Homo sapiens: one gene and its partners. The protein of the gene in region 1 binds, or shares a complex with, the protein of each later gene. Each region holds a gene or a part of one and is shown in the gene's direction. Other genes may lie near its edges. The genes, in order: POLR1F, POLR1B and POLR1E.

What was found.
Region 2: POLR1F (region 1) and POLR1B share a complex: the UniProt entries of both Homo sapiens proteins name them as parts of the RNA polymerase I (Pol I) complex.
Region 3: POLR1F (region 1) and POLR1E share a complex: the UniProt entries of both Homo sapiens proteins name them as parts of the RNA polymerase I (Pol I) complex.

Annotation. Positions count from the first base shown.
Region 1 is NC_000007.14:19,705,932-19,713,944, reverse strand, and holds the start of POLR1F (DNA-directed RNA polymerase I subunit RPA43), read left to right. Parts: upstream 1-4,907; 5' UTR 4,908-4,928; coding exon 4,929-5,182; intron 5,183-8,013. UniProt on the Homo sapiens protein: Component of RNA polymerase I (Pol I), a DNA-dependent RNA polymerase which synthesizes ribosomal RNA precursors using the four ribonucleoside triphosphates as substrates.
Region 2 is NC_000002.12:112,552,434-112,559,540, forward strand, and holds part of POLR1B (DNA-directed RNA polymerase I subunit RPA2), read left to right. Parts: intron 1-211; coding exon 212-383; intron 384-1,105; exon of another isoform or gene 1,106-1,257; intron 1,258-2,090; exon of another isoform or gene 2,091-2,146; intron 2,147-5,476; coding exon 5,477-5,648; intron 5,649-6,859; coding exon 6,860-7,107. UniProt on the Homo sapiens protein: Catalytic core component of RNA polymerase I (Pol I), a DNA-dependent RNA polymerase which synthesizes ribosomal RNA precursors using the four ribonucleoside triphosphates as substrates.
Region 3 is NC_000009.12:37,481,869-37,488,947, forward strand, and holds the start of POLR1E (DNA-directed RNA polymerase I subunit RPA49), read left to right. Parts: upstream 1-4,079; 5' UTR 4,080-4,179; coding exon 4,180-4,255; intron 4,256-4,364; exon of another isoform or gene 4,365-4,572; coding exon of another isoform or gene 4,573-4,834; coding exon 4,835-4,938; intron 4,939-5,994; coding exon 5,995-6,071; intron 6,072-7,079. UniProt on the Homo sapiens protein: Component of RNA polymerase I (Pol I), a DNA-dependent RNA polymerase which synthesizes ribosomal RNA precursors using the four ribonucleoside triphosphates as substrates.

The DNA of each region.
Region 1 (8,013 bases):
GTTTCCCTTCACTTTTGTCATTTCTACAGTCCTTAAGCTAAAGCAAAACTTTACAAATTTAAGCTCATTTTTGCCATCTGCTGGCAAATTTGTGAAACACAAGTGGTCTGCATCAACAAACATTTGGTTGATATACCCTGTATTATATATATTTCGGCTAAAACTGGTGCTTGTTTGACACCTTTCCAATCCTACTAAAATGTTAATATTTACCAATTTGGTCAAATATCTTACCTTAGCACTTTTCTAGGCAGAGACTAAATAAAATAAACCATCAATTTTTACAATTTCCTTCTTCATCAGTTTTTGATATAGACATAGAAAAAGTGAGGATCTTTAGTGATTCAAAGCATAAATTATGGGATAACTCATGCCTGGGTTAGATTCCTTTATTGATAAATCGCTGGGTATTCTTGGGAAAGTCATTGGTTCATTCACTCAAGGAGTATGCATTAGGCCCTGGGCATATGACTGTTAGCAATACAGAGAGGATAGCTACCATCATGAGGCTGACATTTCTTTTAGAATACAGGCTTCTCGCTTGTAAATATATGTCATTAGTGTAATCAATTCATAAAGATTATCTGTCAGTGATTTACCTAGGGCACTTGGCATAGCATCTGGCAGGTTTGTAGTAAAGTTTACCTGTGATAATGTTGGTCATTGTGATGTTGACACTCATCACTCATTCCACCAATTTGATATAAACAGTCATATAAGTGTGATTAAATCCTTCCTGTCAGTACTAGTATTGCTCTTTATCCAGGGTGGGCATTCCTAGGGACGTATATACCCCTGATATATGACAGAAGAAGCTTCTGAGCCTCTCTGAGGCAAAGAACAAAGTACATGAGATCAGATGTACCCCATACATTGGATTGACATTGTGGAAGTTCTAGAGTCTAGACAGAAGGTCTTGTGTGCTTCCTGCTCTATCTTGGAAATCTGCATAGCTGCCAGGAGAGCAAGCTCACTCTAGCCTGCTGGAACACCAGACACATGGGGCCACACATGAGGACAGATGCACAAGTGAACCCAACTGAGTGCTGCCCAAATTTGTACCCATAGAATTATGAGTTAAATTAATAGTTTTATTTAAAGCCACTACATTTGAGGATAGTTTGTTATGCAGCAAAAGCTAACTGATACAATGACATTTTTCATGGAATGCTCTTTATAGGAATTTTTTATGCAAACCATTACATATAGTCAAAAATTCCTGTCTGATTCCATCTTCACATAATCCTACTGTAATAATTTTAGCTTTTTGAAAAATGAAAGAAATGTGCCTAACATCACACATCTAGTAAGTGACAGAGCCAGGATATGAACTCAAGCAATGTGACTTTAGCATCTAGGAGGCTCTTCTCCTTGTATTAAGGCTGGTGCAAAAGTAAGCGTCATTTTTCCCACTAAGAGTAATGGCAAAACCCACAATTACTTTTGCACCAACCAACACTATTAAATCATCTAAAACTAGAGTATGTCCTGTAACAACTTAAATCTTCTGATTAAGTTTCTGATTTTTTTCTGTATAAACATTAAAATAATATATAAAAATTCACAAAAATAAAAGGAAAGTATAAATTCATACTCAAGAGATGACTAACTTTAACATATGGTATAGACATGTGTCGCTTAATGACAAGGATACATTCTGAGAAATGCATAATGAGGCAATTTCATCATTGCATGAACATCATAGAGCATACTTACATAAATCCAGATGACATACCTTACTACACACTTACGCTATATGATGTGCTATGCTAATCTCCTCCTTTATCAGCTTTGGTCATGTACATAGAAAATGTGAAGATCTTTAGTAATTGAAAGGATAAGTTATGGCATAAGTCATGCCTGGGTTAGATTCCTTGATTGATAAATAGCCTATTGCTATTTAGCTGGTTGATAAATAGCCTGTAGCCTATTGCTCCTGGTCTACAAACCTGGACAGCCTGTTACTGTACTGAATACTGTAGGAAACCGTAACACAGTGGCAAGTATTTGTGCAACTAAGTATATCTAAACATAGAAACGATACAGTAAAAAGACATGGCATTATAAACTTACAGGGCCACCGTCATATAGATCAGCTGTTGTTGACCTAGATGCATGAATACAATCATGTGCCCCATGATTTTTTTCTAAGCATATAAATGTGCATGTGTTCTGTAACAATCAGAGCATATGTCACATATTACTTTGTAACCACCATTATTTATTTCAGCAAACCACCAATTTTTGCACATTTATGTTGCTCCAGGGATTATCTGATTGTGAGGAATAGAAACACACTAATATAATAAGGTATATGTGTGTGCATGCTGGAGGTGGCAAGGTCAGTGATAAAATAATACAGACAGTTGCACAGGAAATTTTCTCTCTCTTCCTCTGAGGCCATTGGTCATGGGGTCAAAATTATTTCTAACTTTCTTTCTCCTCCTTGTAGAATGAAGATCTTCTCAGCACATTGCCTTTGACTTGACAGAGCTTTTCATGAGACAGGGACCACCAATGCCTTACTTTTTGTGGAACTTGGACAAATTTTAGAGAAAAATAAAATGGTTCAGTTCAACTACAGGTCTTTGAACAAATAAACTTTGTATATGTCTGCAGGGTAGGGTAGGTAGGAGGAACTCATGGTTATTTCTGTTTTCTTCCCTGTGTCGAAGGTGGAGCAGGTTAATTTGTAAAGTAACCCCACAATGGTGAACACTGGCATGCAGGCAGAATCACCTTGTTCGCTCTCAAATCATGCAGAGCATGGATAGCAGCTAATGATCAAGTCAGAATTTTTAAAACTGAAAATGAGAAAATCAGTTTCAAAATTTAAACAAGCAAACTTCTAACTGCAACTGGACATACCTAGGGTTACAAAACTACTGCATGGGTGCACTACATTTACTAGTTGTGAAAGATTATTACTGGAATATTTGATTTCAGGTAACGTTTTGTTTTGATCAAATTGTCATGATGTCCAGCTTGTTTTTTACTAAATTCTTTCTTGGCCAAATTGTTTTCATTCAAATCACTTACAGCCAGTCTAGATCCATCTTGACTGTAAGGTGTAGTCACCTGGAGAGGTTTTGATTGAATTGATCTGTGATGTCATCCGGGCATCAGGAGTTCTTAAAGCTCCTCACCTTAGGTGACTTCATTGTTTAGCCAAGTTTGAGCACATTGAACAAAAGGGTCCTGCACAGGGGTATCACAGGACTTTGCAACAAAATGAAGGTAAAAGCCATTATGTTTCCCATTTATGGACTTAAAAGTGTCTACTATTAGGTTTTGGGGGCAGTCTCATCCCACTATCATCTCATGCTGAGTTTGCAGTTATTTAAGGAATATTAAAGAAAATGCCTTTTATTTATCTTGTTTGACCCTCCTATCATCTCTCTAAGGTAGCAGGGCAAGTATTATTTTTCGTATTTTACAAGTCAGAAATCAGGTTTAGAGAGGCTAAGAGGCTTTTTGCAGTATTTAGGAGATGAGGGAGTATGTTAATACTCACATCACTGCTATACATTTCTCTTGGCACTTATCCAGCATAACCTGTTATATGTTTATGTTTAGATCCCACTTCCACTTAGGCTGTGAGCTCTTTATCACTTATTATTTATTAACTCACTATCAGGTTATTCATTCAAGATGTATTGGTTGGGTTTTTCTTGGTTTCGTTTCTTTGGAGGAGGGATAAATTGTGGGGGGCTACTGTAGTGAACAATACAGATATTATGGTCCCCACTTTAGTGAGTGTAGGAATCTATTGATGGAACAGGCAAGCAAAGACAGTTAATAAAAAATTAACATAAAAACCAACATAGATGGGTAACTACCTAATCCTTATAGAGAAAGAGGAGTGGGGTGCTTGAAAACTCTTTGCAAAGGTATAGAATGTAAAATCTAAGCTAGAAATTCATACATGAGTAGAATTTACCCTTGTGAAAAATGCTATTATATTCCCTGGTGGAAGGAACAGCGTGAGACTGCACAAAGAGAGACCTGAAAGTAGATCAAGCAGCATGATAATATTAGGGTGGGGAGTGTGACAAATGAAGCTGAAGAGAGAGGCTGTGTGCCCACGCAGATCACAAAATGGCCTTGTAACTTATAAGCCATTTTCATGAGTTTGTGTTGTCCTAGAGAAAATGGGGTGCCTATGTAGGGCTTAAACAGGGCACAACACGATCATATGTATTTCAGGGAAGATCTGGCTGCCCCAGAGTGTCCTCCTGACCATTGAGCTAGGCTTCCACAGGCAGGGAGTCCTGCGGTTTTGGCGGCAGGGAAAGAGAATAGTGTCCAAATAGAATGATATTTCCACTTTGGGCAATACAGGTCTTCAGGCTGATTTGATACTTGGGGATACAAAAGAGGATCCGAGGCTGACAGCTTGGCTGTATGATTCCCTGATTTAGCAGTTGCATAATGAGAAGAGAAGCGGGACAGGAGAGAACTAGTGGGTTCGTTTTCAGATGCGTTGCATTACAATTATCAGGCCTGCTTAGGATTCCGTGTACTGCATAAAATATACTCCATAAATATTTTGATTTTTTATTGTACAGTCCAAGCCTGTAAAATTCTACCAAACCCACCTCACTACTGGAAATGATCAAAGTGAGAACCCCCATTTTTAAGCTACCTACTTAATCCAATAAGCCTCTGTGCGAAAACACACATTTGCCTGCCCTTAAAAGAGCAGTCGGTTGGCTTTCCTGCGTGCTCAATGCATTTCCGAGGCTCTAAGCTCCCGTTCTCGAAGCGCGAAAACGCGGTTCCCCCTGCTGGTCAGGGCTGCGTAATGCAGCGAAAAGAGGGGAAATTCCTAGGGGCGTGGTCGTTGGTGGATGGCGTAAAACGAGCGCCGGGGACATGGGATTGTGCTTGCGTCAACGGCGCGCGCCGTGGGAACCTTGACAAGCAGCATGGCTGCAGGTTGCTCAGAGGCGCCGCGGCCAGCGGCGGCTTCTGATGGGTCTCTGGTAGGGCAGGCTGGCGTCCTGCCTTGCCTAGAGTTGCCGACTTATGCCGCTGCTTGTGCGCTGGTGAACAGTCGCTACTCATGCCTGGTGGCCGGGCCGCACCAAAGGCACATCGCGCTGTCGCCCCGCTACCTTAACAGGAAACGCACCGGCATTCGAGAACAGCTTGATGCGGAGCTCCTTCGCTATTCTGAGAGGTACCGATCTCTTTGCCTGTTCCTTCTTTTGTGCACGGGAAGTAAAGCAGGTGGATGTGCTGACGACGCAGCAGAAAGGGGCAAATGGCAAAGGTCGCATTGCCCCCCAGAGCTTAGCCCCCTGGATTTCTAGAGTCGCGATCCGTCCCTCAAGGCCAGTACCGCTCTGGTAAAGATCTATACAGGGTCCCTTTCATAGATAGAGAAGAAAACTTAAAGATGAAGTTCAGGTGTGGGCGGAGGGAGTGGAGATTCTTGCTCCAGAACCCTGGTGTAGGGGTAGGAAAAGACCAGGGATCTGGAGACCTAGTAGGCCCAGTTCTGTTTGGCATTCAACGTTTCATTTATCCCCTTACGGATGATGCTTTCTCATTTGACGATAAAAATCTGGTTTGCAGTGCTTGAGTAGATTCTCATTCCATAGAAGATAGCATACGAAGCATTAGTACAACCGTTCTATTTGTAAAACATGAAGGACCTTTTTTGTTGTTGGATTTCGCTCTGGTAATTTCCCCATTTTCTCTTCTCTTGGACCTGATCTGGGGATTATGAAAATGCCATTAGTTTAGCGGGATTTTGTTGTTTTTAAGAAGATTTATTCAGTCGAACTAGTGAGCCTGTTGCTTTGGGGAGAGAAAAAACCAAAACGTATGCATTTATATTACGGTATTCAAAAGTGACTTGAAAACTTAGAATTACAGAGGTGTGGGGCGGGGGGCGCGGGCATGTGCTTGAGTATTCCTCTGGACTATACTTTGGTTTAAAAGCGGGGTTCTAAAACTAGAGGGAATGGATTCTCTAGGGATTCATGATTGCCCTTCAGGAATTCCTATGTGAAGTTCCTTGGGCACTGCATCGGAAGTTTTTATCAGTTTCTTAAGGGATCCTGGACCTCCACCCATGTCTAGAATCTGCAGATTCTTCCAAGCACCAATATACACTTCTTGTATGTTTATATTACATACCGAACACTTGAGATACAAAAACAAAAAATAAAATCTCTGTTTCAAGGAGCTTTAAGCTGTAGGAGAGATACAAATACAAGCCAATAAATAGTAAAGTGTTAAAATTTGACAGAAATCTAATAAGATAAGGAGTGTAGAATTTGGATCTTGGGACCTTTGAGAACAACTTGATTGAAGAGGGTACTTTAACATGGTAACATTCCAGGCAAAGAGAGTGGCATAAACAAACGGATACTGGATGTGAACTGGTATGCTTTGCCCAGAGAACTGTATCTATTATATAAGTAGAATAAGGTTTATGTCAGGGGAAAGGCATTGGATGCCATTGGAGAGGAGGGCAGGGGGTCAAAGATGACTCAGAGAGGATGGCCATTTTGCTTTTCCCTTCCTGCCATTGCCAGTTTTTGTTATTTTGGGGGTAAGGTGGGGTTGTTGTTGTTTTTCCTTTTGTGTTTCTGTTTTCTTAAGCAGGGTTAGTGCTCCGTCCTCTCAGTCCCTTTAACGCTGAGACTTGGCACACTTTTGAGAAACTAGTACTTCTCTGCAGTCCCTGGCATATCAGATTTGCAGTTTAAGAAACAACATTTACTTAATGGTTAGCTACCAAATAGGATGAGAAAGTGGACAAGGAGAGGAATTAAGATAATGTTATAATTGTCCAAGAGAAAATGATTAGAGAGGATGGATTTGAGAAATTAAAGGATATACAAAGTAGTCATAACATTTGGAAACACAAGCAACTATCTTGTTTTCTGTAACCAGTACTGCCTGCACTTGACAGGCTAGAGGGGGAAATCACGCAGAGTGGCTCTGAACAGATCTGGACACCACTCCTTCCATATTACTTGGGTATGCTGTTTATTCAAGTGCAAATCAGGCACCACACTTTGAACTATGCATTACTAATAAGGGACAAAACATTGAACATATAGTATTAAAGAACTGAAGTGAGGCTACCACCTTGCCCTGATACCTATTTAGGATGGTATCTGAAAAACAAAAGTGAAGGAGGAAAAAGTATATAGTGTTGGGTGCCTGTGTTCACATATCTGATGACTTTTAACAAAATCCCCCTTGAATTTATATACTGCTAAGTTCCTGAAAATTTTAATATATATTAAAACTGTGCAAAGATGACTTTGTGTTGATGTGTTTTAAGAGTTAAATTAGGTGCCTAGCTATTTGTAAATAGATTTGTCCTTTTATTCAAAAGTCAGAGCGAAGGACATTTCCTCATTGTATCAGACTGTCCTGTACATGACAGACTCTTTTCTTCCCTGGCTTCTGCAAAGTTTGTGATAACCATGACTAGTATCACAAATTTCCACATGTCCCCCCTTCCACCAGGGGACCACAGCCCTCCTTCCCCTTGAGAATCACTCTGATACTTGAGAGACAAGGCTTTGATTAGCGGAAATAAAGTCTTGATAATTTGTTTTTCTGTCTAGTATGGCAGTTAATTTTTCTTCCTATTCTCTGTTTTCTGTGTCCCTAACATTGTCTTAGTGATAGGATGATTCCAGCTTAGGAATGCCACATGCGGAAATTAAAACCTCAGAAAATTGCTTTCCCGAGTAAGTCTCTGAGTTAGGGTTTTCCTAATTTGGTAATTCTTAAAGTGTATTTTCTGTGGCTTCTGGCTGTTTTACTAAACAACATCTGTTAGGGATAAATTCTTTCCCTTATTTTATGTGAATTGTTAGAAGTTTGAGTTCAACAAAAAATATTCTTTGCTATCAAAGGCCTTAGAGTCATGTGTGAAATTCAAACATATATACAGATAGGTTCAATACAATTAGATTAAGAACAGTGAGAAAGTTGGCCTATAGGAGTAGAGGAATGATTTCAGCTTTGCCTGGGGGAGTC
Region 2 (7,107 bases), on another chromosome or scaffold:
AGAAGCCAGCTCCATACTGGTGCTGTCCAGTGCATAGCCACCAGTCACATGATAAGCACTTCAAATGTGGCCAGTGTAGCTCAAAAACTGAATGCTTAATTTTATTTAATTAAAGTTAAGTAAGCATGAGTTGGGGATCTTGGTTAATAGAATATTAAGTAGTATTACCAACTGAATTGTTTTAAGCTTTTTTTTTTTTCTGTTTTCACAGCCAGTGCATCTGTATCCACTTGAAATCCAATACTGAAAAGTTTTATATGCTTTGTCTCATGACGCGAAAGCTCTTTGCTTTAGCCAAAGGAGAGTGCATGGAGGACAATCCTGATAGTTTGGTGAACCAGGAAGTCCTCACACCGGGTCAGCTCTTCCTTATGTTCCTGAAGGTAAATGCATGCTATGTCCACCCTTGGCCAGTGGTACCACTTGTGGAATGGCGTGACTTTGTCCAGCAGCACTGTTTTCTGCATGTTTATAGTTTCTAGTTTTGGCATTTTGTGTGGTCTCTTTTTTGTTTGTTCATTTAGCAGTAAGGGGATCAGAAATCCTGGCTTACACCAGGTTTGGAAATTTGCTTAATATTTTTATGTAAAGATCACATCAAATCTTGGTCACAGTGTTAATGATAAAAAGCAAATGGCCTGTATTTATACATATGGTTGATCCTCATTATTTGTAGATTCTGTATTTGTGAATTCACTCACTGGCTAAAATTTATTTGTAACCCTAATGTCAGTGCTCAGTGCTTTCATGATTATTCACATACATGAGCAGAGCAGTGAAGAATTTGGGTCTCCTGAGGCAAATGTTACAGCTGAGGCGGGGCAGGGCGATGCTCTGCTTTCCGGTTTCAGCTCATACTATAAAGAGGGTCCTTTTTGAGGTGCATTTGGTGCTATGTTTTTCACATTGTCGTGCTTCTTATTGGTGACTTTTTTGTTTTTTTTTGAGACAGGGTCTCAGCCTCAACCTCCCAGGCTCAAGCAATCCTCCCACCTCAGCCTCCTGAGCAGCTGGGACTATAGACATTCACCACCACACCCGGCTAATTTTTAATTTTTTTTGTAGAAACAGGGTCCCACTATGTTGTACAGGCTGGTCTCAAACTCCTGGGCTCATGTGATCCTCCTGTTTCAGCCTCCCAAAGTGATAGGATTGGAGACATGAGCCACTGAGCCTGGCCAGTTTTTGCTGTTTATAATGGTCCCCAAGCATAGCACTGAAGCGCTGTCTAGTGTTCAGTGTTAATGAATTAACAAGGTATGTTAAATAAGGTGCCTTTCAACAAAAGCTGACATTAAACAAGATTGTATATTGATCCGTTGACCAGAATGTTATGACCAGAGACTTGCAGGAACCCAGCCCTGTATTTTTCCCCAGGAGTAGTGGTTTTATATGTGTTAATTCAGTGTTCATTAGAACATAGCTACTGTGAGTAGTGAAATTTGACTGTAGATGTATATAGAGAGAAAGTTGGCATGGCACAAAAATGATTTCATAAGAATATTGATTCAGTGGCATTTTATATTTTGCATCTTATCCTCAAAAAGATGTAATCTAAGAGTTAATATATTTTTAGTAGAGGTGGGGTTTCACCATTTCAGCCAGGCTGGTCTCGAACTCCTGACCTCAGGTGATCCACCTGCCTCAGCCTCCCAAAGTGCTGGGATTACAGGTGTGAGCCACTGTGCCTGGCTTCTAATTTATTTTATTTTATTTTGAGACAGAGTCTTGCTCTGTCTCCCAGGCTGGAGTGCAGTGCTACGATCTCAGCTCACTGCAACCTCCACCTCCCGGGTTCAAACAATTCTCCTGCCTCAGCCTCCCGGGTATCTAGGATTACAGGCGCGTGCCACCATGCCCGGCGAATTTTTTTATTTTTAGTAGAGACGGGATTTCACCATGTTGGCCAGGCTGGTCTCGAACTCCTGACCTCAAGTGAGCCACCCACCTTGGCCTCCCAAAGTGCTAGGATTACAGGCGTGAGCTACCACACCCGGCCTTCTAATTTCTTATCTAGGTAGTAATTCTTATTTACATTCTTCCCGAAAGGTAATAATCTTTGTTTCTGTTTGCTCTGTCCATAAAATTAGATTGAAAAATTTCAGCAGCCTACAATTTTCCTGACAAAAATTGAAAGCAGGCAGCGTAAGTTTTCTCTTATTAATTTAATGTTATTAAATTAACCTTTCAAGTAAAGGTTAATTTACATTTCCCATCTACTTAAAGTGAAGCATGGTGGGCTCATTGTATTCCACACTTATAAATGTGTCTTTATTCCACATCAATTCCTAATTAGGAAAAAAAAGAAAAGAAAAAGAAATGAGACCAGGAGTACAGTGGCTCATGCCTGTAATCCCAGCACTTTGGGAGGCTGAGGCAGAAGGGTAACTTGAGCCCAAGGAGTTTGAGACCAGCCTGGACAGCACAGAGAGATCGCTACAGAAATAATAAAAACTATTAGCAGTGGCTGGGTGTGGTGGCTCACGCCTATAATCCCAGCACTTTGAGATGCCAAGGTGGGTGGATCTTCTGATCTCAGGAGTTCAAGACTAGCCTGGGCAACATTGCAAAACCCTGTCTCTACAAAAAATATAAAAATTAGCTGGGCATGCTGGCATGCTGCAGCAATTCCAGCTACTCAGGAGGCTGAGGTAGGAGAGTTGCATGAGCCTGGGAGACGGAGGTTACAGTGAGTTGAGATCACGCCACTGCACTCCAGCCTGGGCGACAGAGCAAGACCCTGTCTCCAAAAAAAACCTGTTAGCTGGGCATGGTGGTACATGACTGTGGTCCCAGCCACTTGGGAGGCTGAGGTGGGATCCCTGAGCCCAGGAGGTCAAGGCTGCAATAAGGGGTGATTTTGCCACTGCACTCTAGCCTGGGCAAAAGAGCAAGACCTTATCTCAAAAAGAAAAAAGAAAAAAACACCTGGTGCGGTGGCTCACACCTGTAATCCCAGCACTTTGGGAGGCCGGGGTGGGAGGATCACTTGAGCCCAGGAGTTTGAGATCAATCTGGGCAAACAGCCCAGAGACAAAACTTCGTCTCTACAAATAATTTTAAAAAAATTTAGCCAGGCCTGGTGGGCCACACCTGTGGTCCCAGCTACTCAGCAGGCTGAGGTAAGAGGATTGCCTGAGCCCAGGCGGCGGAGGATGCAGTGTGCTGTGATCACGCCAGTGCACTCCAGCCTAAGTGACAGAGCAAGACCCTGTCTCAACAGAAAAAAGAAATGAGTCTTCTGTAGCAAGGCGTTACTAAGGTGACCTGTGTCAGCAACAAGAGAAACCAAGGGAAAATTGGGGCTTTTTCAGAGAATTCATTGCCGAGTATCTGATTTCCTTACCAGCTACGTTAAAGCTTTTAAACCTTTGAGTTTGGAGCATAAAAACAATCTTCAGAAGATACATAACCATGACATAAGATGAATTATAGACTGTTAAAAATTCACATTGTATTTACATTGAAATAAGCAATATAAAATTGAAAAATAGCAACCATATTTTCTGTATTATTGTAGATTAACCATAAAACACTTCAGTTAGCCTTTCTGGTTTTGATTTTAAACCCAAATAAGGAAGTAGACATAGTTATGAAAAAAAAGGGAGAAGAACACAAACAAATCAGTTGTCAAGATCCAGGGCTTCTTATTCCATCTTGACTGTGAAGATGAAGTGTTCAGTGTACACCTGATAAAAACATTTATGACACAGGAAGATGTAGGCTCAAGAAAGGAATCTAAACAGCAACCAGCAGAGGTGGAGCAGTGATGCCAGGCTCTTCTACTCAAACTTGATTCTCTAGTTTCACTTGATAAAGTCCAAACCTACATTAATACCCTTGTTGGGTGAGCTAACAGCTTCCTTCACTCCCTGGTAATTCCCTTATCTGTACATTACAGATTTTTAGCAGTGTACTTACAAATCCTACTAGTGTGTAGTCAGTTGTGAGATTCATTGTAACATTTTATAAAATATATTCCTTCTTCCCACACCTCTCCAAAATTTATTCCTTCCAAGTACTAAAAATTTAATATTACTGCACCACAGTGATATTAAATGCAGTGTCAGTGCCAGAGAATATGCAGAAATGAAATGTGTCACTTCCAGTGCTGTCTTCTGGAAGAATAGTTAGGTCTTCCAAGTGTGAGTGTTCAAACACTGATAGTTTGAAGAGGTGGATTATCAATAGTCAATGGCTAATGTGTTGACTCAGGGGCCTGCTGGAAAAGGTATACATGAGTGACCTATGTACATCTTCCACGTTTTCTTCCAAATATCAAATATAGGAGAGAACCTATCTCAAACATTCTCTTAGGTATTTTCAGTGGTTTCTGAACCACCCATAGAAAGCGCTGATGGTGTATAGTCTTTTTTTCTTTTATTTTTAGTTGACATGTAATAACTGTACATATTTATCGGGTATACAGTGATTTTTCCATATATGTCAATAATGTATAATGATCAAATCAGAGTAATTAACACATTCATCACCTCAAACATGTATCATTTTTTTGTGTTGTGAACATTCGAAATCCCCTCTTCTAGCTTTTTGAAAATATACAATAAGGCTGGGTGTGGTGGCTCACGCCTGTAATCCCAGCACTTTGGAAGCTGAGGCAAGAGGATTGCTTGAGCCCAGGAGTTTGAGACCAGCCTAGGCAACAAAGTGAGACCCCCATCTCTACAAAAAAAATTTAAAAATTAGCCAGGCATGGTGGCACATACCTATGGTCCCACCTACTTAGGAGGTTAAGGCAGGAGAATCCCTTGAACCCAGGAGGTTGAGGCTGCAGTGAAAAAATATACAACAAATATAGTTAACTGTATTCAACCTACATTGCTGCAGAATACCAGAACTCATTCCTCCAGTCTAGCTGTAATTTTGGAATTGCAGGCTGCTTTAGGCTTTTCACTTAGTGTTGGCAGCATAGATTAAGATGGACTGTGTAGTTCGTGTGATTGGTTTTAGATGTATAACAAGTATAATGGGTGAAGGAGGGCATCACATTGAAGAGCTATCCTTTCTGCACCTGAAAAGCCCTCTTTCAGGTTTTTGGTTTTGATGTATGTTAGTAGACGTTTGTTAAAGATCGTACAGATTACATGGGAATAAATATGAAGTTTGTGATAATTGAAACACATACTATTTTATTTTATTGAGAATAGGGTCTTGCCCTGTTTCCCAGGCTGGAGTGCAGTGGCACAGTCATGGCTCACTGAAGCCTTAGGCTCCTGGACTCAAGCGATCCTTCCGCCTCAGCCTCCCAAGTAGCTGGAACTACAGGCACGCCCCACCCCCTCACCCCACCCCCTCTGGCTAATTTTTTTGTAGACAGGGTTTTGTTTCACCATTTTGCCCAGTCTCATGTTGAACTCTTGGTCTCAAGCGATCCACCCAATCCTGGGATTATAGATGTGAGCCACCACACCTGGCTCACATACTATTTTATATTAATTTTTTTTCCTTATTTCAGGAAAAACTGGAAGGTTGGTTAGTGTCTATTAAAATAGCTTTTGATAAGAAGGCTCAGAAGACCAGTGTTTCCATGAACACTGACAATTTGATGAGGATTTTTACAATGGGCATAGACCTTACAAAACCATTTGAATACCTTTTTGCTACTGGGAATCTGCGTTCTAAAACAGGTAAAATTAAATCGATCGTTTTAGTTATGTTTTTCAAATTAGTTGCTTAGTGTAGATTTGCCTGTCCCTGAGAGTTCTTTTTAAAAGCAAACCCCACGAAAAAAGTAAATTTCTCATAACTATGACTTCGACAACTATTGGTCTAAAGGGCTTTAGACAAGGTGTCTGTATAGCTAAAATTTAATTCAGATAACTGAATACATTTTCTCTGCTTCCTTCTAGAAAATGAAAGGCCACTTAGACCTCTGAGGAAGGCTTACCTAACAGGAACTCTAGATGGGTTGCTGTACATGCCCATCTCTAAACCATTTGCCTTGCCTCAGAGTGACCTGAGAGGCCAGGTGTGGTGGCTCATGCCTGTAATCCCAACACTTTGGGAGACCAAGGTAGGAGGGTCACTTGATCCTAGGAGGTCAAGGCTGCAGTGAGCTGTGATTGCACCACTGTACTCCAGCCTGGTGACAGAGTGAGACCCTGTCTCAACAAAAAAGAGAATGACCCTAGAAACTTAAAAAGTGGTAATTGGGAATTCAGAATTTTTTTTTTTTCTTTTTTGAGTCAGGGTCTCACTCTGTCACCCAGTCTAAAGTGCAGTGGCAGGATCATGGCTCACTGCAGCCTTGACTTCCCAGGCTCAGGTGATCCTCCGACGTCAGCCCCACGAGTAGCTGTGACTACAGGCATAAGCCACAACACCTGGCTAATTTTTGTATTTTTTGTAGAGATGGGGTTTCGCTATGCTGCTGAGGCTGGTCTGGAACTCTTGAGCTCTGGTGAACCACCCACCTTGGCCTCCCAAAGTGCTGGGATTATAGCATGAACCACTGTGCCCCGCCTTTTTTTTTTTTTTTTAAACCCATGTTACTGTTGCCGATTCTTTCATTAGCCTGCTTTCTTGCTTGTCTATTATCTGACTCTCTCAGATGAATTTAACTACTTGCTATTTTATTAACTCATTTAATGTTCACCCACAAAGGAGGTCATAGAGGAGACAGGGAACTAGTTGGGGCTAATACAGTTTGTGAAATCTGGGGATTATTTTACATATTTTTTTGTGAACTCTTTACACTCATCAGAGCTAGGAGAATAAATGTTGTAATAATTCATTCTATGATCTGTAGAGTGCTCTGAGGTTTTGTCGTCATAAAGCCTCAACAATTTCCATTTTTCAAAAGATTGGCCCATTTTTGAATGACTTTTGTTTTATTAAGGTCTTGGCCTCCTACAAGATTCTGGACTTTGTGTTGTGGCTGACAAGCTGAACTTCATACGCTACCTCTCCCATTTCCGCTGCGTGCACAGAGGGGCTGATTTTGCCAAGATGAGGACCACCACAGTACGCAGGCTGCTGCCAGAGTCCTGGGGCTTCCTTTGTCCCGTGCATACCCCAGACGGGGAGCCCTGTGGCCTGATGAACCACCTAACTGCCGTATGTGAGGTTGTCACACAGTTTGTGTAT
Region 3 (7,079 bases), on another chromosome or scaffold:
ATGTAAGGAAAAAACCTGTTCAAGGTGAGAAGTCCACCTTTTAAGGAGTGAGTCATCCATGTGTGTAGGTATGCAAAGAGGGTCTGCATCAGGGATATGAAGGAAAGGAATGGGAATGACCAGAGGAGAGAACAAGAGAGTGAGACAAACACAGAGGGAGAAAGGAAGGGAGGAAAAAGAGAAGCAGAGGGACAAGAAAGGAAGAGAAGAGGTGAGACAGAAGAAGCTATTCTCGGCCGGGCGCGGTGGCTCACGCCTGTAATACCAACACTTTGGGAGGCTGAGGCAGGGGATCACGAGGTCAGGAGTTCAAGAGCAGCCCGACCAACATGGTGAAGCCCCATCTCTACTAAAAATACAAAAATTAGCCGGGCATGGTGATGCACGCCTGTAATCCCAGCTACTCAGGAGGCTGAGGCAGGAGAATTGCTTGAATCCGGGAGGCAGAGGTTGCAGTTAGCCGAGATCGCGCCACTACACTCCAGCCTGGGTGACAGAGCGAGACTCTGTCTCCAAAAAAAAAAAAAAAAAAAAAAAAAGAAGCCATTCCCCAGAGTACAGGGCGAGTCACTGCAAACAGTATGGAATCTGACTCGCCTTTTCAGGTCTTTGTTAGTGTTATCCTGAAACACCAGCAGATGGAGATATTACCCCAGGAAAGGAGGACTTTGCTTTTCTCCCTCTCCTTTTGCCCTCTGGAAAACCATTTTCCTTCTCTGAAAAATGATACTAAAAGAGAACTCCAGGTGTCTCTGAATTATTTCCAAACTAAATTTCCAAAAAAAATTATGTGGTAAATTTTGCCTGTGATTATCCACGATTTGAATATAAAAGAGGCCACCTGGCCAGGTGTGGTGGCTCACGCCTGTAATCCCAACACCTAGGGAGGCTGAGGCAGGTGGATCACTTGAGGTCAGGGGTTCGAGACCAGCCTGGCCAACATGGTGAAACCCTGTCTCTAACAAAACTACAAAAATTAGCCGGGCGTGGTGGTGGGCACCTGTAATCCTGGCTACTCAGGAGGCTGAGGCAGGAGAACTGCTTGGACCCAGGAGGCGGAGGTTGCAGTGAGCCCAGATCACACCACTGCACTCCAGCCTGGGCGACAAGAGTGAGACTCCGCCTCAAAAAAATAAATAAATAATTAAATAAAATAAAAAAATAAAAGAGGCCACTATAGGTTTTTGCATTTTGGTTAATGCCTATGTAGGGCTCCCTCCATCCTGCCCCATCCCACCTCCATCCTGCCCCATCCCAGTTACACAGGCACGTATGTATATGTACATGGTGTGTATAGGTGTGTCTTTTGAATAACTGTTAAATAATTAAACAACACAGGGGTATACTATGATCCCCTTCCCAGCTGCCTGACCATCAACACTTTGCTTCCACGGATAGAATCTCCGTCATTTGGAATTCTTGCCTGTGGTAATTCTAGGAGTTTTTGCTTCAGTGGGTGTGTTGTACTCTTCACTCTTTGTCCTCGCTACAAAACAGTCAATCCAGGGGACTTGCACATAATCTGTCTGACTGGCAAATATGTGCCTTAAAGGGGAATCAGTCCGGTATAACAGTGATTCCTAAACTTCAAGTGCACATGAATCACCTGCAGATCCTGTTGCAGAAGATTTGATAGGGTTGGAGATCCTATATTTCTAACAAGTTCCCAGGTGCTGTCGAGGCTGCTGTTTCCATGGACCACACTTTGAGTAACAAGGCCATACAATGTGTTCCTATATCATGAGTAACAAGGCCATATAATGTGTTCCTATATCACAAGATACTTCTCTTAAGAACTATACTTGGCTCATTGTAGCCACTGTTATCTTGGTCACCTTTAACTTTGATTTAACTGTTCATATTTTCATTCAACCAAAAAACATTTATAGAGTCTGTTATGTGTAAACCCTATGCTAGTTGATTTCAACCAATATTACCAAACATCTTTGAGTTCCAGTCCCTGTGCTAGGCTTCCAAGATTAGTGATAATTCAGGCCCATTCTTTGCCCTGTCATTCATTAATTCATTCCATATTTATTGAGGGTCTAGTATGTTCAGGATTTGGAGATAAAGCAGTGATCAAAACAAACATAAATTTGTTTATTAACCTCCAAAGTGTTTATTGTGAACCCCAAGTAAGTTTAGTGAGGAAACAATCAATGGGTGAGACAATCACACAATTAAGCTCTTCTTTCTTCATCCTTCTTTCTTCTTTCTTCTTCTTCCCTTTTCCTTTCCTGAACAATTCAATCCAAAATCATGAGGTGGGGTCAAGCAAGGTAGCCTTCTAAGGGAGGAAAGGCTATGAGAGCTAAATGCAACACATGATTCTTGACAGGACATTTTTGCTATAAAAACATGATTGGGCCAGCTGCAATGGCTCACGCCTGTAATCCCAGAACTTTGGGAGGCCAAGGTGGGAGGATCACTTGAGCCCAGGAGTCTGAGACCAGCCCTGGCAACACAGTGAGACCTAGTCTCTACAAAAAATTTTTTTAATTAAGAAAAAACAAAACAAAACTGAGTGTGGTGGCACACACTTGTATTCCCAGGTTGTGGTGAGAGGATCACTTGAGCCTGGAAGGTCAAGGCTGCAGTGAGCCCTGGTTGCAACACTGCACTCCAGCCTGGGTGACAGAGTGAGACCCTGTCTCAAAAAACAAACTAACAACAAACGTTGGGACAATGGGTGAACTTAAATGGGATGTGAGGATTACATGGTGGTAATGTACCAGTGCTAATTTCCTGATTCTTTTCTGTTTAATTTTTTTTTTTTTTTTTGTCGCCCAGGCTAGAGTGCAGTGGCACCATCACAGCTCACTGCAGCCTCTGCCTCCTAGGCTCAAGCAATCCTCCCACCTCAGCCTCCCGAGTAGCTGGGACGACACGCGTGCGCCACCACACATGGCTAATATTATTTTTTGTAGAGACAGGGTCTTGTTATGTTGCCCAGCCTGGTCTCAAACTCCTGGAATCAAGGGATAGAACTGCCTCTCCCTCCCAAAGTGCTGGGATTGCAGGCGTGAACCACTGCGCCCGGCAATTTGCTGATTCTGATGGCTGTGTTGTTATTTAGGGAATGTCTGTAGGAAATACTATAGTCTTCAGGGTTGAAAGGGTATCAGGTTGACAACTTACTCTAAATGGTTCAGGGCAAAAACATTTCTTGCAGTGTTTCTTTACGTTTGAGATTGGGTAATTAGAAAAGCGTGACAAGTGCTCAGGCAAAGGGGCATGCAGGCTTTAGGGTTATTCCTAGGATCCTGGGTGTTGGAGGCGGGTGTTGAGGGTGTGTGGAAGGAAAAGAGTCTTGAAAGAAGGTGATTTGGAAGACAGAGGGGAGTCAACCGGAGTTCTTGCCCTTCAATAGTACGCATCTTTGGGCAAAGGGGGCCTCGGCCAGCGTCCATGCTTAAAGGCCCTGCTTTCGCCTTCTTTCTGCTCTGAAAACTCCCCGTGCAGAAGAAGGGTTGAATCCGCAGTGAAAAAGGGACATGTCCATCAGCTCGGACTCCCTCTTCTATTCCAGTCCAGAATCTCCTGCCCAAAGGCTCCGGGGTTGGCTGGGCTTCTGTTCCATCACCTCAGTGTTGATTGGGCCACAGGTGTGCACGCCACAGCCCATGGCGGGGAGCTGTTTGTCGGACTGTGGACAAAGTTTGTACCTAGAGCTGGATGTCCACGTGGGTGGGTGGGAAGCCCTAGAGAGGGGCGGCTATTCGCCAGCGGCCACATTTAGTTGGGGCTCAAGCAGTTCCTGTCAGAGAATTCTAAATTTGAACTTGGTCCTTCAGGTCTTGGGAAGATGAGTTTGTCACGGTAGGAGAGAGAGACGACACTCTCTTTAGAAGGTGCTGAGCCGGAAGAAGGCTCATAGCAAGCTTAGGCTGAAGCCTTTGGCGCCTCGGGCTCTGGACCTACAAAACCCAGAGTGCACGCGAGCGCTGAGCCAATCAGGTGCTGCGCCTCGGCCAGTCAAGCGGGTGTGTGGCACCTTGTGGGCGGAGACCACGCCTCTCTACGCGGGGGGCGGGGACACGCGGCTCGCGCGCTGTGGGCGGTGCCCGGCGGGGCCACGCCTTTTCCGGCCCGCAGCGCGGCCTGGGCTCCCGCGTGTTTAAAAGTGCGCTTGTGGCTGCTGCTGTCTTAACTCCTGTGCTTGGCGGACAGACAGGCGAGATGGCGGCGGAGGTGTTGCCGAGTGCGAGGTGGCAGTATTGTGGGGCGCCCGACGGGAGCCAGAGAGCTGTACTGGGTAAAGACTGCGGAGCTGGAGCAGTGCTCCTCTAACCCTCTCCCCTTCCGTCTCGGTACCTCAGCTGTCCTCTCGCCCTCCGTTGGGCTTCTCCCCAGCGGGGCCGGGACCCCTCTAGTCTCCACCACTCCCCTGGGCTCTGTCAGGGCTCCCCTGTCCGTCTTTCTGTCACTACCTCCCAGCCAGATTGGGACATCCCACTCACCCGCTCCCCAGAGCTGTGTCCAGGACCCTGCTGACCCCCTCACCCACCAGGTCTCCCGCCTCCCCCATTTCCCTCTCTTCACTGGGCAGGGGTTCCTTCTGTCACTTTAGGTATGTACCAGGCCTCTGCTGTCAGCCTCCTTCCGCGAGACATTCCCTCCTGTCACAGCCCCTCCCCAGGGTTCTCCCACCTCCCTACCTCCTCTTCTCAGCTGGCCCCGGATCTCCTCCAGTTCCCTTTGGGTCAGGACCCGAGCTTCCTTGCCATCCCCATTCTGACACTCCCTCCCAGTGACAGTCTAGTCCCACCGTACATTGTGTGGTACATTGTGTGGCCTTCTGCTCTCATCTCATTCTTGGGCTGCACTCTTACAGTCCAGTTCTCCAACGGGAAGCTACAGAGTCCAGGCAACATGCGCTTTACCTTGTATGAGAACAAAGATTCCACCAACCCCAGGAAGAGGAATCAACGGATCCTGGTAAGTGAAGCAGTTGCCAGCTGTCTCCACTCTGCAGGGCTCAGAAGGCCCCTGGGAGTGGGTGGATGTGGGAGGGAGTGAGGGGAGAAAAAGGGGAGTAGTAGCAAATGGAGCTTTGAAGAACTCTGATGCCCAGCAGCCTGGGATGTGGGGACAGGCTCCATCTTTCATTCATTTGTTCTTTCAACAAGCATTTATGGAACCTGCCCCTCTGCATCCCTGTGCTGCAAGCTTCTAGGAAAACAGCCAAATCAGGCCTAGCCCCACTCAGAGTTCATACTCTAGAGCAGGGTTTCTCAACCTCAGGACTATTGACTTTTTGGGCCAATAATTCTTTGCTGTGGGGGCAGCATCCCTAGTCTCTACTCATTAGATGCCAGTAGCACCAGAGTGGATTTCCCTGGATTGAGAACCTCTGCTCTAGAGAGATGAGAACTGGCTGTGAGGGACACTTTTACACAAAGCTCTGAGGCCACGTGGGGAAGAGTACAGGGCAGAGTGAGCTCAGTGGGAGGAGAGGTCTCTGCCAGAATGCCTTCCTTGGTGAGGTCATGTTGGAGCTGAGCCTTGAAGGCTGGAATGAGGGTTTGGCAGTCAACGTTTGGTGTTTCGAGTGAAAAGGATAGTGAGGACAAATGCAGAGAAGCAGGAAAGCTTGCTTATGATTGGGGAGTGAATCAGCCATGGTCCTGAGAGTATACAAAGAACAGGCCAAAGAGAGATTGCTTACAGAATCACTTTGTTGCATACCTTTAAGTGCCAGAAGCCCAGGGCCTCTCTCTCAAGTCTTGTGGCAGAATTCCCCCAAGAGCTTTTCATACCATTTAGAAGCTAGCACCATCTGAGGCTTCTCTTCCAGAAGTCGTCTTGCTTCCCCTGCAGGGACACCCCATATTCCCTTAGAGATAGTGGGGCTGGATCATCTGCCAGAGATGAACTAGTTCTAATCCATTGTGAGTCTGGATTCAAAAGCCTCAGCAAATGTAGAAAAGAGAAATGATGCTTAATACCTTTCAACATTGGTTGTAAATGGAGTTTCCCCTCTCTGCATTTTAGGCAGCTGAAACAGATAGGCTCTCCTATGTGGGAAACAATTTTGGGACTGGAGCCCTCAAATGCAACACTTTGTGCAGGTAATGGCAGGGGAAGGGACAGTGGGAAGGGTGATGGGGTTGGGAGTGGTGGCAGCACTGGCACTGCTGTTTCCTGTCTGTTTTAAGGGTAGCAGGAGCCATCTAGAGAGGTTTACTAGGTGATCCCTGTGTTCCTATTAGACCCAGAGCCCTTCCCTGCACGTGTAGACGTTGCTGGAAAGGAAAGATAACTTGAATTTCCTAAAAACCTCATTCATTTGTAATCTTGTTTATTTATAGCTGTCTTATTCCAAAAGGCAGGTCTCTCCATTAATTTGGAATGTGTGACTAGTAGGTCAAAGCTTGCGTGAAGTTTACCTGGGAACTAACGACAGGTAAAGAACTTGGTAGTGTTGAAGGCTCTGGACTGGGAAAGAGGAGCCTGGGATTCCCATCCAGCTGTGCTGCTGATTGACTGAGTGGCTGGGTAACTCTGCGCATCACTGACCCCCAGCCTCCCCCTCTGTACAGTGAAGATTGTCCAGCCTGAACTGTATCACTCTCGGGGGCTGGCATGATGCAGACAGGGCCCTGTGATGGTACCCAACAATGAACTACAAACTAGGCCCTTTCTGAGCCCCGGTGGACCATACTCCAATAGAGGAGAGGTCAGATGGGTGTATAGGTGCTGAGAACTATTAACCCTGCACTCTCCCCTCTCAGAGATGCCCTAGTTCCAATTGGTCTCCTCCCCGTTTACTTGATTTTGCCTCCATAAAACTGTTGTGCCATAAATTGTAGTGTAATTCTAGGTTCGTACACCCCAAAAGAGTTTTCCATTACACTACCGCAGTGAGCCCAAATGTGATCAACTATCAGAATCACCTAGTAGCTTTTTTTTTTTTCCCAGAACCACCTCATATCCTCCCATCCCATCCTATCCTTTCCTATTCCCTCTCTATGCAGAGAATTGCTGTGGGGTAGGGGTAGGGGAGATTATTGTTACCCATGAGTAGATGATGCATTCCTCAGGTGTGTGGGCAGAGAGAAGGTTGAGAACTTTTGAAC